4 linked regions of the Homo sapiens genome follow. The protein of the gene in region 1 purifies or fractionates together with the protein of each later gene. This does not show direct contact. Each region holds a gene or a part of one and is shown in the gene's direction. Other genes may lie near its edges.

The links. Proteins that work in one complex are often made in the same cells at the same time.
Region 2: the proteins of ATRNL1 (region 1) and CLCN4 fractionate together in Homo sapiens (co-fractionation; one large-scale study listed by BioGRID). This does not show direct contact.
Region 3: the proteins of ATRNL1 (region 1) and LYSMD4 fractionate together in Homo sapiens (co-fractionation; one large-scale study listed by BioGRID). This does not show direct contact.
Region 4: the proteins of ATRNL1 (region 1) and MCOLN1 fractionate together in Homo sapiens (co-fractionation; one large-scale study listed by BioGRID). This does not show direct contact.

Annotation. Positions count from the first base shown.
Region 1 is NC_000010.11:115,299,365-115,302,864, forward strand, and holds part of ATRNL1 (attractin-like protein 1 isoform 1 precursor), read left to right. Parts: intron 1-669; coding exon 670-883; intron 884-2,490; coding exon 2,491-2,679; intron 2,680-3,500. UniProt on the Homo sapiens protein: May play a role in melanocortin signaling pathways that regulate energy homeostasis.
Region 2 is NC_000023.11:10,163,475-10,166,974, forward strand, and holds part of CLCN4 (H(+)/Cl(-) exchange transporter 4), read left to right. Parts: intron 1-3,500. UniProt on the Homo sapiens protein: Strongly outwardly rectifying, electrogenic H(+)/Cl(-)exchanger which mediates the exchange of chloride ions against protons.
Region 3 is NC_000015.10:99,730,438-99,733,506, reverse strand, and holds the start of LYSMD4 (lysM and putative peptidoglycan-binding domain-containing protein 4), read left to right. Parts: upstream 1-1,499; 5' UTR 1,500-1,507; coding exon 1,508-1,789; exon of another isoform or gene 1,790-2,084; coding exon of another isoform or gene 2,085-2,149; exon of another isoform or gene 2,150-2,298; coding exon of another isoform or gene 2,299-2,334; exon of another isoform or gene 2,335-2,712; intron 2,713-3,069.
Region 4 is NC_000019.10:7,525,624-7,529,123, forward strand, and holds part of MCOLN1 (mucolipin-1), read left to right. Parts: intron 1-815; coding exon 816-983; intron 984-1,137; coding exon 1,138-1,303; intron 1,304-1,896; coding exon 1,897-2,005; intron 2,006-2,240; coding exon 2,241-2,337; intron 2,338-2,534; coding exon 2,535-2,634; intron 2,635-2,973; coding exon 2,974-3,080; intron 3,081-3,197; coding exon 3,198-3,347; intron 3,348-3,477; coding exon 3,478-3,500. UniProt on the Homo sapiens protein: Nonselective cation channel probably playing a role in the regulation of membrane trafficking events and of metal homeostasis. Acts as a Ca(2+)-permeable cation channel with inwardly rectifying activity.

The DNA of each region.
Region 1 (3,500 bases):
TTTGTCAATCTTAGTTAAATTATAGGCACGAGCATCAGATTTTATTACTTTTGTTGTTTTTTGTTAATAAAATTATATGACATAAATTTATCCAAAAATCATATAGAAGTCCAGATTTATTTGTAGACGTCTGAGCTAAGAGAGAGGCAGTTATTCTTCTGTAAGTCTTTTTGCTAGGTCTTGTTATGAAGTCTTCACTCAGACTCTATATATTGTTTGTTGATTTTATTTTCTAGTTTCACAATGCAGATAATGGCAATTTATCTTTAGAGTCTTAATCCTATAACTGATTACATTGATAGTAGTAATAGTAATAGAAGCAGCAGCAGCAATAACAATATGTTAAGTTTTTAAATAATCCTACCTTATCAGATAGATAATTATATCTCCACTTTATAGAAGAGTAAACTGAGGTTCATGAAGGCTAAATAAATTATTCCAATCATGTAGCTAAATATAAAACCTGTGTTTTAAAAACAGTGTTCTATTCTACATCATTCTCCAAAATATGCTATAATTGTTAATTATTCTTAGTACTAAAACTCATTAGAAAGGCAGCTTTATATATTTTCAAATATAATTTTTAATGATAGTGAACTATTTGCTAAGGAATATGCCATATTTTTACATCTAACTTTCTTTGAATGCCCCTTTTCCTGTTGTTTACAGAAAGTATCACCTTGGGTAGGCTTGCGCAAGATCAATATATCCTATTGGGGATGGGAAGACATGTCTCCTTTTACAAACACAACACTACAGTGGCTTCCTGGCGAACCCAATGATTCTGGGTTTTGTGCATATCTGGAAAGGGCTGCAGTGGCAGGCTTAAAAGCTAATCCTTGTACATCTATGGCAAATGGCCTTGTCTGTGAAAAACCTGTTGGTAAGTAGTCCAGTAAATTAGCATTCCTTTAAAAGTATGTTTCCCACCCATCTTCTCATTCCTTCCTTCTAGGGTGTAGTCTTATTCTATGATATTTATGTAAATTTTATTTTTATACACATTCTTCCCCACTTACTATTAGTGATCTCAGCATTAACTTGTGAAAATAACATAATATTATTATTTTATGCAAACTTTGTTGGTTCAAATAGTGAGATTGTGGTTGTAGTTACTTATAATATGACAATAATCTATTCTTAATTCATTAATGTCTTTTACTTTTATCATGATAGTGTTTGGGAAGAAGATTTGCTTTTAAGATTAATGGCTAATTGGGACTCCTTTTACTCTTGTAGACATATTTCAGTTATCAAGTAAAAAGAAACATTTTTGTTACATCTTCTGAAATGGATTTTTGTTAAGTAAGAAAGGAATATTGAATTCTTTTCTTTTAAATCTTATATTTTTATCATGGTAAAATGTACTTAAAATTTACCATTTTAACCATTGTAAATGTATTTTAATGCCAATTCAATGGCATTAAATACTTTGACACTGTTGTGCAAACATCATCACCATTTAGCTCCAGAACTTTTTCATTTTGCAAAACTAAAAATCTGTACCCATTAAACAATAACTCTCCATTTCCTCCACCCCACCCCCTACAGTCCCTAGCAACTACTGTTCTACTTTCTGTCTCTATGAATTTACTACTTCAGGTACCTCATATGGTGAAATCATACAGTATATGTGCTTTGTGACTGGCTTATTCCCTTAGCATAATGTCTTTAGGGTTTAACCAAGTTGTAGGATATATGAGAATTTCCTTCCTTTTTAAGGTTGACCAATATTACATTATATGTAAATACTACATTTTGTTCATCCATTCATTTATCAATGGATACTTGCGTTGCTTCTACCTTTTTGCTATTGTGAGTAATGCTGCTATGAATGTGGGTGTATGAATAACTGTTCAGCTTCTTGCTTTCACTTCTTTGGGGTATATATATATAGCCAGAAGCAGAATTACAAAATAATGTGGCAATTCTGTTTTTCACATTCCCACCAGCAGTGCACAAAGGTTTCAATTTCTCTCCATCCTTGCCAATATTTATTTCCTATTATTTTTAAATAATGGCCATCTTAAAGGCTGTGATAAATATTGTATCTTGTGTAATATTTTATGATAAGCTGTATTTTTATTCTTTGTTTATATCAAAGACATGTTCACTTACAGGACATTTACTTTGTAAGATGTGGAATGCTATGGAAAACGTGGCTGGGAAAAAATTGTGGCTGGGAAAATAAACAGTGCTGGTATACAAACTAGGTCATAGATTACATTACTGCTTATAATACTTAAAATTATACAACTTTATATACTTTGTAAAGAATTACAAATTTCAAAGGAGTTATACATTTTCAAATTTAATAAAAATTTTAAGAAGTATTGATATATCATCTTTGTTTTTATCTACCTCATCATATTATAATGCCACAGTTGGCTTAATTGAAACATGCCCTGAACAGCAAAGCAAAGAAAACCCATACAATTGTGTTAACATGAAGTTAAAAATGAAATTATTGTATTTGTTTATTTATTCCAGTTAGTCCAAATCAAAATGCGAGGCCGTGCAAAAAGCCATGCTCTCTGAGGACATCATGTTCCAACTGTACAAGCAATGGCATGGAGTGTATGTGGTGCAGCAGTACGAAACGATGTGTTGACTCTAATGCCTATATCATCTCTTTTCCATATGGACAATGTCTAGAGTGGCAAACTGCCACCTGCTCCCGTAAGTATTTATCTAGAGTGACTTTTCACTTGACAGCAACGTAAATTTACTTTTCTGTGATGTAAAGAAGAATTAAATATTTGAAGAAGTTTCAAAAAATGAGAAAAAATATTGTTACGGCTACTTTTGAAACCAACTGGTACTGTTAACCTCTGATTTTTATTATATCATCATTTTGCATGCCACTAAGTATCTTACCCTAAATATTAACATATTGCCACATATGTACAGCCTCTTTTCCCTGAACTGTGTGTATGTTGCAGACAGTATAACACTTCATGAGAGTGTTCACCTCAAACATCACAGATTGCTTTGGTGAGCCTTTTTAGTATCTTTTAATCTAGTGCAATTCCCATATCTTTTCCTTATATGACTTTGATATTTTTGAATAACCTATACCAATTGTTTTGGAGGTTTCTCAATTTGGATTTGTCTAATTTTTCCCTCATGATTAGATTCAGGAAAGCATTTTGGGGCAAGAATATTTTATCAATGTTGGTATATCTGCTACAAGTATAGAATGCACAGTCTTGAAATCACATAGAGTTATGTCAGCAGGGCAGTACTGGGCTTGCTATGAGTTATACTTCAGGAGAAAGATTTTGCCCCTTGCTGATCTCTCATGTTTTCTAAGGACTATAGGATAAGGCTGCACCTGAATGAATATTTAATACTGGGTACTATGTGGTGAGAGTGGCCTTGCTTACAAACACAAATGGCGTCAGAATACAGCTGCCAAGGGAATTGCATAATGCTACTGGGAGCACTTGTTAGCCTTGTAGGAACTTAAGACCGTGTGAAACTCTTTCTGCTTGGGAGAA
Region 2 (3,500 bases), on another chromosome or scaffold:
TCGGCTCACTGCAACCTTCATCTCCCAGGTTCAAGTGATTCTCCTGCCTCAGCCTCCTTGTAGCTGGGATTACAGGCACGCACCACCACGCCTGGCTAATTTTTGTATTTTTAGTAGAGACGAGTTTCACCATGTTATCCAGGCTGGTCTCGAACTCCTGACCTCAGGGGATGTGCCCGCCTCGGCCTCCCAAAGTGCTGGGATTATAGGCTTGAGCCACTGCTCCCGGCCCCTTAATTACTTCTTCATTCAGCAAATATTCCTTGGGTCTGTGCGTCTAGGCCAGGGTTTCTCAACCTTGACACTGTGGACGTTAGGGTCCAGATGATTCATTTTTATGGGGGGCTGTTCTGGGCAATGTAGGGTATTGAGCCGCATCCCTGGCCACCATCCACTAGATGCCAGTGGCACCCCATCTCCCAGTTGTAATAACAAAAAATGTCTCTAGACATGGCCAAATGTCCCCTGGGGGTCAGTATTGCCCCCAGTTGGTTGAGTCCTACAAGTCTAGGCAGTGGGATACATGTTAGGACCAAATGGACAAGGTTCCTGCCCTCACGGGACTGATTTGAGCTGAGGGAAGAGGAAGTAGCTGTTGGATAGGCTGTGTGTTGAGTGAAAGGATGGACAGCAAAGGATGCACAGCACTGGACTCCAAACGCTGGTCAGGGAGGGCAAGAAGGCCTCTCTGAGGGGTCGCACTTGAGCAGAGATCCGAATGGAGAGAGAGCCACTTGAGCACGGTGGGCTGAGTGCTCAGGGCTGAGGGAACAGCCAGTGCAAAGGCCCTGAGGCAGGGCAGGACAGGAAGCGTTTGCGGAAAGCAGGGAGATCGGCGTGTGCAAAGTAGAGCTACCCAGAGAGTAGGGGTGGGGACAGGTGCTCAGAGGGGCGCAGGGGGCAGGCCATCCTGGAACTGGCAGTTGTGGTGTCAACCCTGGATTGTCCTCAGTGTGATGGAAAGCCACTGGATGCTCCTGTGTCGGGGAGTGACATGTTGAGACTGGGTTAAAAGGACTGGCTGCTGTCAGGAGCAGAGTCAGAGGTGGGTGAGAAAGAAAGCAGGGCAGCCAGCAAGGAGGCTAGGAGGCGAGGCTGGAGGCCAGATGGGGAGTGGCCAGGGTGACCAGGTGAGTTGGACTGAGGAGCTAACCTCTTTAGCAGCAATGTTGTCCTAGGTGCCAGAGTGGGCCCTTGGTGATCAAAGAAGCCTGGCGTGGGAGGGTAGTGTGAACTACAGGGCAGGACATGGAGGCTGCAGACGTGTCCTCATGCATCCGGCTCAGTCGCAGCATCACCTTTGATGGGCGGTGGCCTCCCAGGGACAGCAGAGGAAATGGCCATGCACATTCCCACATGACACCTGAAAAGCTCTCTTTCCCGCTTCTTGTCGTGGCTGAAGTCTCCCAAGCTGTCAGGCTGCCGGTGGCTCCGGTGATTCTGGCTACACAGCTTGCTTGCTGTCCTCGGGCCCAGCACATTTGTTCCTGCCACTGAGTCTCTGAATTGGCTGTTCTCTGTGGCTGGAGGGTCAACCCCCACACTTGTTCCCTTGTTGCCTTCTCCAAGTGGCCCTGGTCGCCCTGCACCGCCTGTCACGTGCGCTTCTGCGGGATGCAGTGGCCTGCAATCGGGGGTTCATGGAAGCCCCTGCCTGCTGGCTTGCCATCTTCACACTGTTCTTGACGTGGTCCTGCCCTGCCCCAGGGCCTTTGCACTGGCTATTCCCTCAGCCCTGAGCACTCAGCCCCCTCGTATTCAACAGAGAGCCTGCTGTTGGCTGGGTTGAAAGTAGATGTGAGACCGGAGCCTTCCTCACAGAGGGGACTTGAACCCCTCTTGAAGCTGCAGAAGAGGAGAGTCCTGGAAGGCTGGGGTCAGGCCCTTGACCTGCCCTGGGGACGACACATGGGAACAGCAGGGTCATGAAGGAGAGGCTGTGGGTGGGCGCTCCCCCTGAGGGTGGTGTTCCCCTCTTTCCATCTGAGGCAGTTGGGGCGCCCAGGATGGGTTTGGGGTTTGCTGATGTGAGAGCTACCCCAACGCTGTGTTTCCTTATGGGGGAGGCTGCTCCTGGTCCTGGGTGCTGGGCCTGCGGCTCCTCTCTGTGGCTGCCGCTCCCCTGAGCCTTGCCCGCAGTTTCGCGATGCTTCCCGATGGGCTGACTGTGTCCTCCTATCTCTTGGCTCTTCACTTCCCTTCTGGGTTGATTTGGCTAAATATGAAAGTTCTTTTTCGCCCTCCACTCTAACCCCTGGAGGTGCTGGTTGGGTGAAAAGGCCTCTGTGGTTAGCAGATAGCCGAGAGATTGTTCCTCTTAGCTTAGTCACGCATCACACCAGCTCGCCTTTTACCCCAAACATGGAATTGGCTCAAATGTCAGCCCGTGTGTTGGTCAGAGTGGCCTGCCTCTCTTCACCGTGGCGTCCCGGGCCACCAGGAACAGCACATGAACGCGGTTTTGGGTGCCTTCCAGCATTTAGGCTTTACACACTTGCCAGTCACGAGTGGCTCCTGAAATTTTCTTTTTATCCATGAGGGGGTGTGAACCTTGGATAAGCAGAAAATAGGTTGTTGTGGAGAAAACCTGTCAGAAAATGGTGAAGGGAAGGCCAGGCTGTGGAGGTGCCAGAAGAGCGAGGGATTTCCCACCTGCACTGTCTTCAGCAGCTGTGATGGCTTGAACTGTGTCCCCAACAAATTCATAGATTCAAGTCCTAACCTTCAGTACTTCAAGACGTGACCTTATTTGGAGATAGGGCCTTGACAGAGGTCATCATGGTGAAACGAAGGCATCAGCAGCGCGCGTCCCTTCATCTCAGACTTCTGGCCTCCGGAACTGGGAGAAAACCCTTTTCTGTTATCTGAGCCACCCAGTCCGTGGTGCTTGGTTACGGCAGCCCTAGCAAGCACGTGCAGCAGCATTTTTTTGTGGATGCATGAGAGCGCGACCCAGGGGCCTTTAATTAAGCTATTCTCACACGGTGTAGGAGAAACGTGGCCCCCAGTGCCCTCTCCATGGAGGCACATGGCTCTGGGTCCTGAGGTGGCAGAGGCCTGCCTGCTGTTGTGGAGAAAGGCCCCTGGGACCTGGGCTGGATCCAGCTGCCCCCTCACTGTGTGTGAGACTTAACCTCTGTGCCGCAGTTTGCTTATCTGTAACTTATCTGTAACGTGGGCCTGAGGGAGGCGGTACTTCATACACGGGGGAAGTGCTTAGAATGAAGCCAGGTACACGGAGCCCTGTACAAAGGCGTTGTGACTATTATTATGGGAAGAAGTCTCTGGGGAAATTCCAAACCCTTGGCTCTTGGCACCAGCAACACAAACACCTCACAGCCCAGCCCTCCTGTCCCTGGGATGGGGGTGTGAGAACACTGAGGCCATTGTGTCACCCGAGGCCACATGTGGTTGGCCTCATCCTATTTCCAACACGTGGGCTGGGTTTCAACGTGGAACGAATGGCTGCATGGCCCTGGGTCCATAGGAAGCCTGCCATG
Region 3 (3,069 bases), on another chromosome or scaffold:
TGCCCGCCCAGCGCTGACTTCATTGGCTGCCTCCCCAGTCCCGCCCCCAGGGGGGCCCTGCTGATGTTCGTAGCCAATCCGCAGGCGCGGTGGCAGCTGCGGGTCGCGGGTCGCGGGTCGCGAGTCGCCGGTCGCCGGTCGCGGCGGAGCCTGGGCGCTGAGGTACCGGGGCCTGGACGAGGGGGCCGCGGTCTGGCTAGGGAGCCGCGCGGGCTCATGGCGGTACGGCGACCTGGCCTCGCTCGAGGGTTCGCGGGCGGGCCGCCCCTCCCCGGGCTCCTAGGGGGACGCTCCAGCTGGAGGGGCGGTGACCGCGACTGTCGTGGGCTGGCCCCAGGTGGCTAGGGTTGGGGGTCAGAGGTCAGAGGTTCTGCCCTCTGGAATGTTAGGGCCCCGCCCGTGGAGCCGTGGAGCCCTGGGGCCGGGCCGCTCCCCATTTTCCTGTCAGCTCTTGTTGAGGTGCCCCATCTTTTCGCAGAAGGGACTTGGAGGGAAGCGGGCCTGGAGCTGCTGCCGCCGCCCCTGAGCTCGGACGCGAAGGCTGGCCCCGTCCCCGGGCTGCCGCCGTGGTCCTGCAGGTGACCCTCAACCCCCCGAGGACCGCCGGCCGCCTCCCGCCTCCGGGCAGGCTCAGGAGCGCGCGGAGCGGGGTGTGGGCCTGTGACCCTCGAAGGCGTGGGCGGGGAGTAGGGGGTCGAGCTGGGGCCGCAGGCTGTCCCCGTACGGGCTGCTCCCCTGTGGCTCCGAAGCCACCTTTTTCTGAAGTTGTCAGCCCGCGTGTTTGAGATTTCGTTTCTGGAATCTCACGCGAACAATCTGGAGAGAGGAACAGGGGTCTTGCGGCTTTGGCTGTTGACTCAAGGGGAAAATAAAAACCAGACAATGGGGATGTAATGAATGCAAAGTGACCCGTGAGCAAACTGGACGCTTTTCTCCGGCTGACAGGCATGAGTTCTCCCCGTAGCTTGCCCCACATACTGTGAGTTAAACTGTGTCAAAGTAAGAGCAGTTTAGCCCCACAGTTCTGAGCAAGAGTCCTTAGCGCTGACCTTCTTAGTGAAGATACTTTGCAATGTGTAAAATATTGAATACAAAATTATTGTGCAAAGCTTCTGAGTTGAAGATTCTGAGTGCGCGGAGGCTGGCGGCAGCCCTTACTTGCCATTGCAAGGATCTCAACTTACTACTCTGAGAGCAAAAGTAGTTGTTTCTTTACAGATGTGGGTTTAGGGGAGACAGCTATGGATGAGGAACAGGGGCGGGGTTCGTTTTCTGCACAAAACGTATGCGATTAGAAAAAACAAAGGGTTTTTATTCTGCCTATCTTCTTCCATCTCAGCCAGCATAAGCACATTCTTTTTTTTCTGTTGATGATGTATGCTGAGTATTTGCAGCGATTAGGAAAAGGAATACTCTCTAACAAGACACTTCTCTTTAAACGAGGCGGTGGAGGGATGATTATGTCTTCTGTGGAATTAACCCTCCGGCTTGATTTTCAGTGAAGAAAATGAGGCACGAGGAATTGTTAACCAAGACCTTCCAAGGCCCAGCTGTTGTGTGTGGGACTCCGACCAGCCACGTATACATGTTTAAGAATGGCAGTGGGGACTCGGGGGACTCTTCTGAAGAAGAGTCTCACCGTGTGGTTTTGCGGCCCCGGGGCAAGGAGCGCCACAAGAGCGGTGTCCACCAGCCTCCCCAGGCGGGAGCAGGTGACGTGGTGCTGCTGCAGCGGGAGCTGGCCCAGGAGGACAGCCTCAACAAGCTGGCGCTGCAGTATGGCTGCAAAGTAAGACACCCCTCAGGGGCCCTGCCCCGCTCCGTTTCAAGGAACACGGGGAACTCACTGCAGGGTGGGTGCCCTTGCCGCCCTTCTTAACCCTGCCAGGCCGTCAGGAGAGGCCTGCTGTAGCAGCCAAGGACTCCCCTATTTAGCCAGAATTGGAATGCAGGTGGGAGTACCTTTAGTTCCCAACCCTGGCCCCCAAAGAGGGAGGGTTAGCGCATTTCTTTCTCTGCAGGGAACTTCTCCTTTTCCTGTTTTCTCCACACTGAAATTCTGAAACCTTTTTTCTTCTTTCGAGCACATTTTATTTTAGACCTAATGGGGCTGGAGATACCAGGCAGAATTTAATTCCGGATTTCTATGGTATGCTTGCTTTTCTCGCTGCTCTTATTTTTCTGAACCTTTCTTGGTGGTAGCTTACTTGACTTTTGGTAAAGTTTTACCTTCTCTCGTTTAGAACTGCATGGTCTTTTGTATGCTGTGTATCTATATAACCCTGTTTTTCTCTAATTATGTTTTCAGCATTCAGAGTGATTAACAATGGCAAAGTAAGTAGGAAAGTATTTCTAGAATTGCTGCATTTTCTCCTAGATTGCAACTGTTTCACTTTGCTAACACTGTGCTACAGATTTGTATGGCCTTCTCTAGGGGTATATAAGCTACTTAATTTAAGAAATCTCTTTCTCCTACAAGTGTCTTATCTAACAAGGTCCAAATGTCTGAAACATGTTGTGTGGGGTGTTGCGGTCTTTCAGGGAAATAAACAGGTTGGTCTCCGGGGACACATAGTGGTCTTTAAATTGTACTGACAATTATATTTGGCTCCGATAAGCAGCTTCTGCAGGCATACTGTGTGGCTTACAGAACATGGGCTGAAAAATGAAGCCTGTCCTACAAAGACCGGAATAGATGGAGTAGGCTTCTTGGTATGGTGATGTCTAAATCCGTAAAGAATATATAAAGCCTTTGATAAGTGATCAGTTTTCCTATTTGAAGTAAATAAATTTGCTCTTAATTTATTGAAGGCAGAGACAGAAAGATCTCAAGGGTCTCATGCATTAGATTCAGGACATAGTGAATTAAAAATGTCCCCTACCCCAAATCAGTTACAATAACAGCAGTTGCTGAATAATAATGGAAATGATTGATTTGATTGAGATCTGTTGGCTGTATTCACTTTCTAGTTTAAGTGGACTTAAGTGTTAAAAGTTTGGAGTTCATCTCTGATGCTTTTGGAAAGTTTTCAAACATTAGTTTGAGGGAGGGGTTACCCTTTGACTTAC
Region 4 (3,500 bases), on another chromosome or scaffold:
GATAGTTCTCCCTCCCCCATGCCAGACCCTGTGCTGGGCTCTGGGAACCCCAAGATGAATCAGACCCAGCCACTGCCCTAAGTGCTTACTTCATGTTTTGGGCTGACTTTAGCATGTCACCATGCCTCTAATTTTCCCTCTGAAAAGGGACCCAATTGTCCAGGCATGGTGGCTCATGCCTGTAATGCCAGCACTTTGGGAGGCTGAGTTGGGTGGATCATTTGAGGCCAGGAGTTTGAGACCAGCCTGGCCAACATTGCAAAACCCCGTCTCTACTAAAAATACAAAAATTAGCTGGGTTTGGTGGCAGGTACCTGTAACTCAGCTACTCAGGAGGCTGAGACAGGAGAATTGCTTGAACCCAGGGGGTGGAGGTTGTAGTGAGCTGAGATCATACCATGGCACTCCAACTTGGGCAACAGAGTGAGACTCTGTCTCAAAAAAGAAAAGAAAAGGGACCCAGTCATGGTACTTACCCTGAAAGTTTGGGTTTAACACAGAATCGGACATCCAGTAAACATTTAATGAACGTTAGTCCCTGCAGTGAGATAGATGAGTCCCCACCCTGTGTTGTACGGGGGAGGACACAGTGGTGGGCGTGGCATGGAGCTTATGCCAGGAGGTGGGGTGAAATTAATCAAAGCAAAGAAATGCACAAGTGAAATCCGTGTTTGTGGCCCAAGTTAGCAGGGCCCTGCCCCACCCCAGTGGACATCTGCAGGGCCCTCCCTGTCCTCTTCCAGGGCCTGTGCCCTGAGGGAGATACACCCCAACCCCCATCCTAGCCATGCCAACCTCTACTACCCTCTCCCCAGCTCATCCTGTTTGGGCTCAGTAATCAGCTGGCTGTGACATTCCGGGAAGAGAACACCATCGCCTTCCGACACCTCTTCCTGCTGGGCTACTCGGACGGAGCGGATGACACCTTCGCAGCCTACACGCGGGAGCAGCTGTACCAGGCCATCTTCCATGCTGTGGACCAGGTGCTGGTGGGCGGGCAGGTGCTGGTGGGCAGGCAGGTGCAGGTGGGCGGGCAGGTGCAGTTGGGCGGGCAGGTGCTGGTGGGCGGGCAGGTGCAGGTGGGTGGGCTGCAGAGAGCGGGCCGGACTCACAGGCCCTCCCCTTCTCTGCCCACAGTACCTGGCGTTGCCTGACGTGTCACTGGGCCGGTATGCGTATGTCCGTGGTGGGGGTGACCCTTGGACCAATGGCTCAGGGCTTGCTCTCTGCCAGCGGTACTACCACCGAGGCCACGTGGACCCGGCCAACGACACATTTGACATTGATCCGATGGTGGTTACTGGTGAGTGGGCAGGACGAGGCTTCACTGTTGGGAGCCTGAGCTGCTGGGATTAAAATCAACAGCTGTGGCTGGGCACGGTGGCTCACGCCTATAATACCAGCACTTTGGGAGGCTGAGGAGGAAGGATTGCTTGAGGCCAGAAGTTTGAGACCAGCCTGGGCCACGTAGGAAGACCTTGTCTCTACGCACAAACAAATTAGCTGGGCGTGGTGGCGTGCCCCTGTGGTCCCAGCTACTCAGGAGGCTGAGGCAGGAGGATCGCTTGAGTCCGGGAGGTTGAGGCTGCAGTAAGCTATGACCACGCTGCTGCACTCCACCCTGGGTGACAGAGTGAGACCCTGTCTCAAAAAAAAAAAAAAAAAAAAAAAACAAGTATGCTTAGTGTGAGTGTGACTCTTGCCACGTAGAAAGCACCAGATGTTATATTTTAATATGGCTCATTCAGTAAAACATCCGCAGGCCCAGAGAGTGCCAGGCCTGTAGGAATGACCCAACCCTGGGGAAGCACAGGGAAGAAGGCCACTGGGGACTCTGGGGAGACCAGCCTGGCCTCCCCGGCCCCCTGAGGCCCTTCCCTGACTCCCTGTCCTTAGACTGCATCCAGGTGGATCCCCCCGAGCGGCCCCCTCCGCCCCCCAGCGACGATCTCACCCTCTTGGAAAGCAGCTCCAGTTACAAGAACCTCACGCTCAAATTCCACAAGTACTGCCTGCTCACTCGAGGGGGGCCCAGGGTGGGGGAGGCAGCACACTAGGCACTCTCACCCCAGCAACTACTTCCCTAAGGTGGGGACAGGGCCCCCCCGCCCGCGCTGGTGCCTGCTGGGTGAGCACTTCCCCTGCCAGCTGCAGAGTCAGCACGTGGCAGGGGACGCTGGCACTTGGGGCCGGAAGGGACCCGAAGACGCCCCTGACCCTCACCCGAGCCTCCTGCCTAGGCTGGTCAATGTCACCATCCACTTCCGGCTGAAGACCATTAACCTCCAGAGCCTCATCAATAATGAGATCCCGGACTGCTATACCTTCAGCGTCCTGGTGAGGCCCCCCGGGAACCCACAGGGCTCCTGAGTTCCAGGGCAGGGACCTGGTCAGGGAGTGTCTTGGGAGCACTGGCCAAGGGCAAGCGTGCGGGTGATGAGGGAGGGAGCCCGGGGTCTGTCAGGCCACCTGTCATGTGGACCTTGGGGCTTGGGGCTGCCAAGGTTTACTCTGCCCCCAACTGGCCCCCACAGATCACGTTTGACAACAAAGCACACAGTGGGCGGATCCCCATCAGCCTGGAGACCCAGGCCCACATCCAGGAGTGTAAGCACCCCAGTGTCTTCCAGCACGGTGAGCCCCTGAGCCCCAGACCAGCACTGACCAGGGGCCCTGGCCTGTCCTGGGATTCCCCAAGCCCCAGATCAGCGCTGCCTGGGGGCCGTGACCTCCCCAGGAATCCGCTGAGCCTCAGATCAGCACAGACCAGGGACCCCGTCCTGTGCTGAGATCCCCCAAGCCCCAGACCAGCACTGACCGGGGTTCTTGACTCACCCCAAGCAAGCCCTGAGCCCACTGACCAACCAAAACCAGCCGTGCAGCCCCCTAGGTCTCCAGCCTGGCCTGGCACCAATGCTAGCCTCCCAAGGCTCCATGCCATCCTTGGCCCTACCCGCTCTGCCCTCCCCGCAGGAGACAACAGCTTCCGGCTCCTGTTTGACGTGGTGGTCATCCTCACCTGCTCCCTGTCCTTCCTCCTCTGCGCCCGCTCACTCCTTCGAGGCTTCCTGCTGCAGAACGTGAGGCTTCTGCGTCATGTGTGCTGGTGTCCTCCCCGCCTGGCCCTGGGGCGATAAAAGCCAGGGCTTTGAGGGTCCTGTGCCTGGTCAGGCCCTCACCCCGCCTGCCTTCTGCAGGAGTTTGTGGGGTTCATGTGGCGGCAGCGGGGACGGGTCATCAGCCTGTGGGAGCGGCTGGAATTTGTCAATGGCTGGTACATCCTGCTCGTCACCAGCGATGTGCTCACCATCTCGGGCACCATCATGAAGATCGGCATCGAGGCCAAGGTGCGTCCTGCCAACACCCTGGGCCCCAGGTCCCATCCCTGCTGTCAGTGCCTATCCGGGGCCATATCCTCCCCCAGGCCCCCCAAAGGAAGGGCTGGGCCAGATAGGTTGACGCAGCTCCCACCCGCAGAACTTGGCGAGCTACGACGTCTG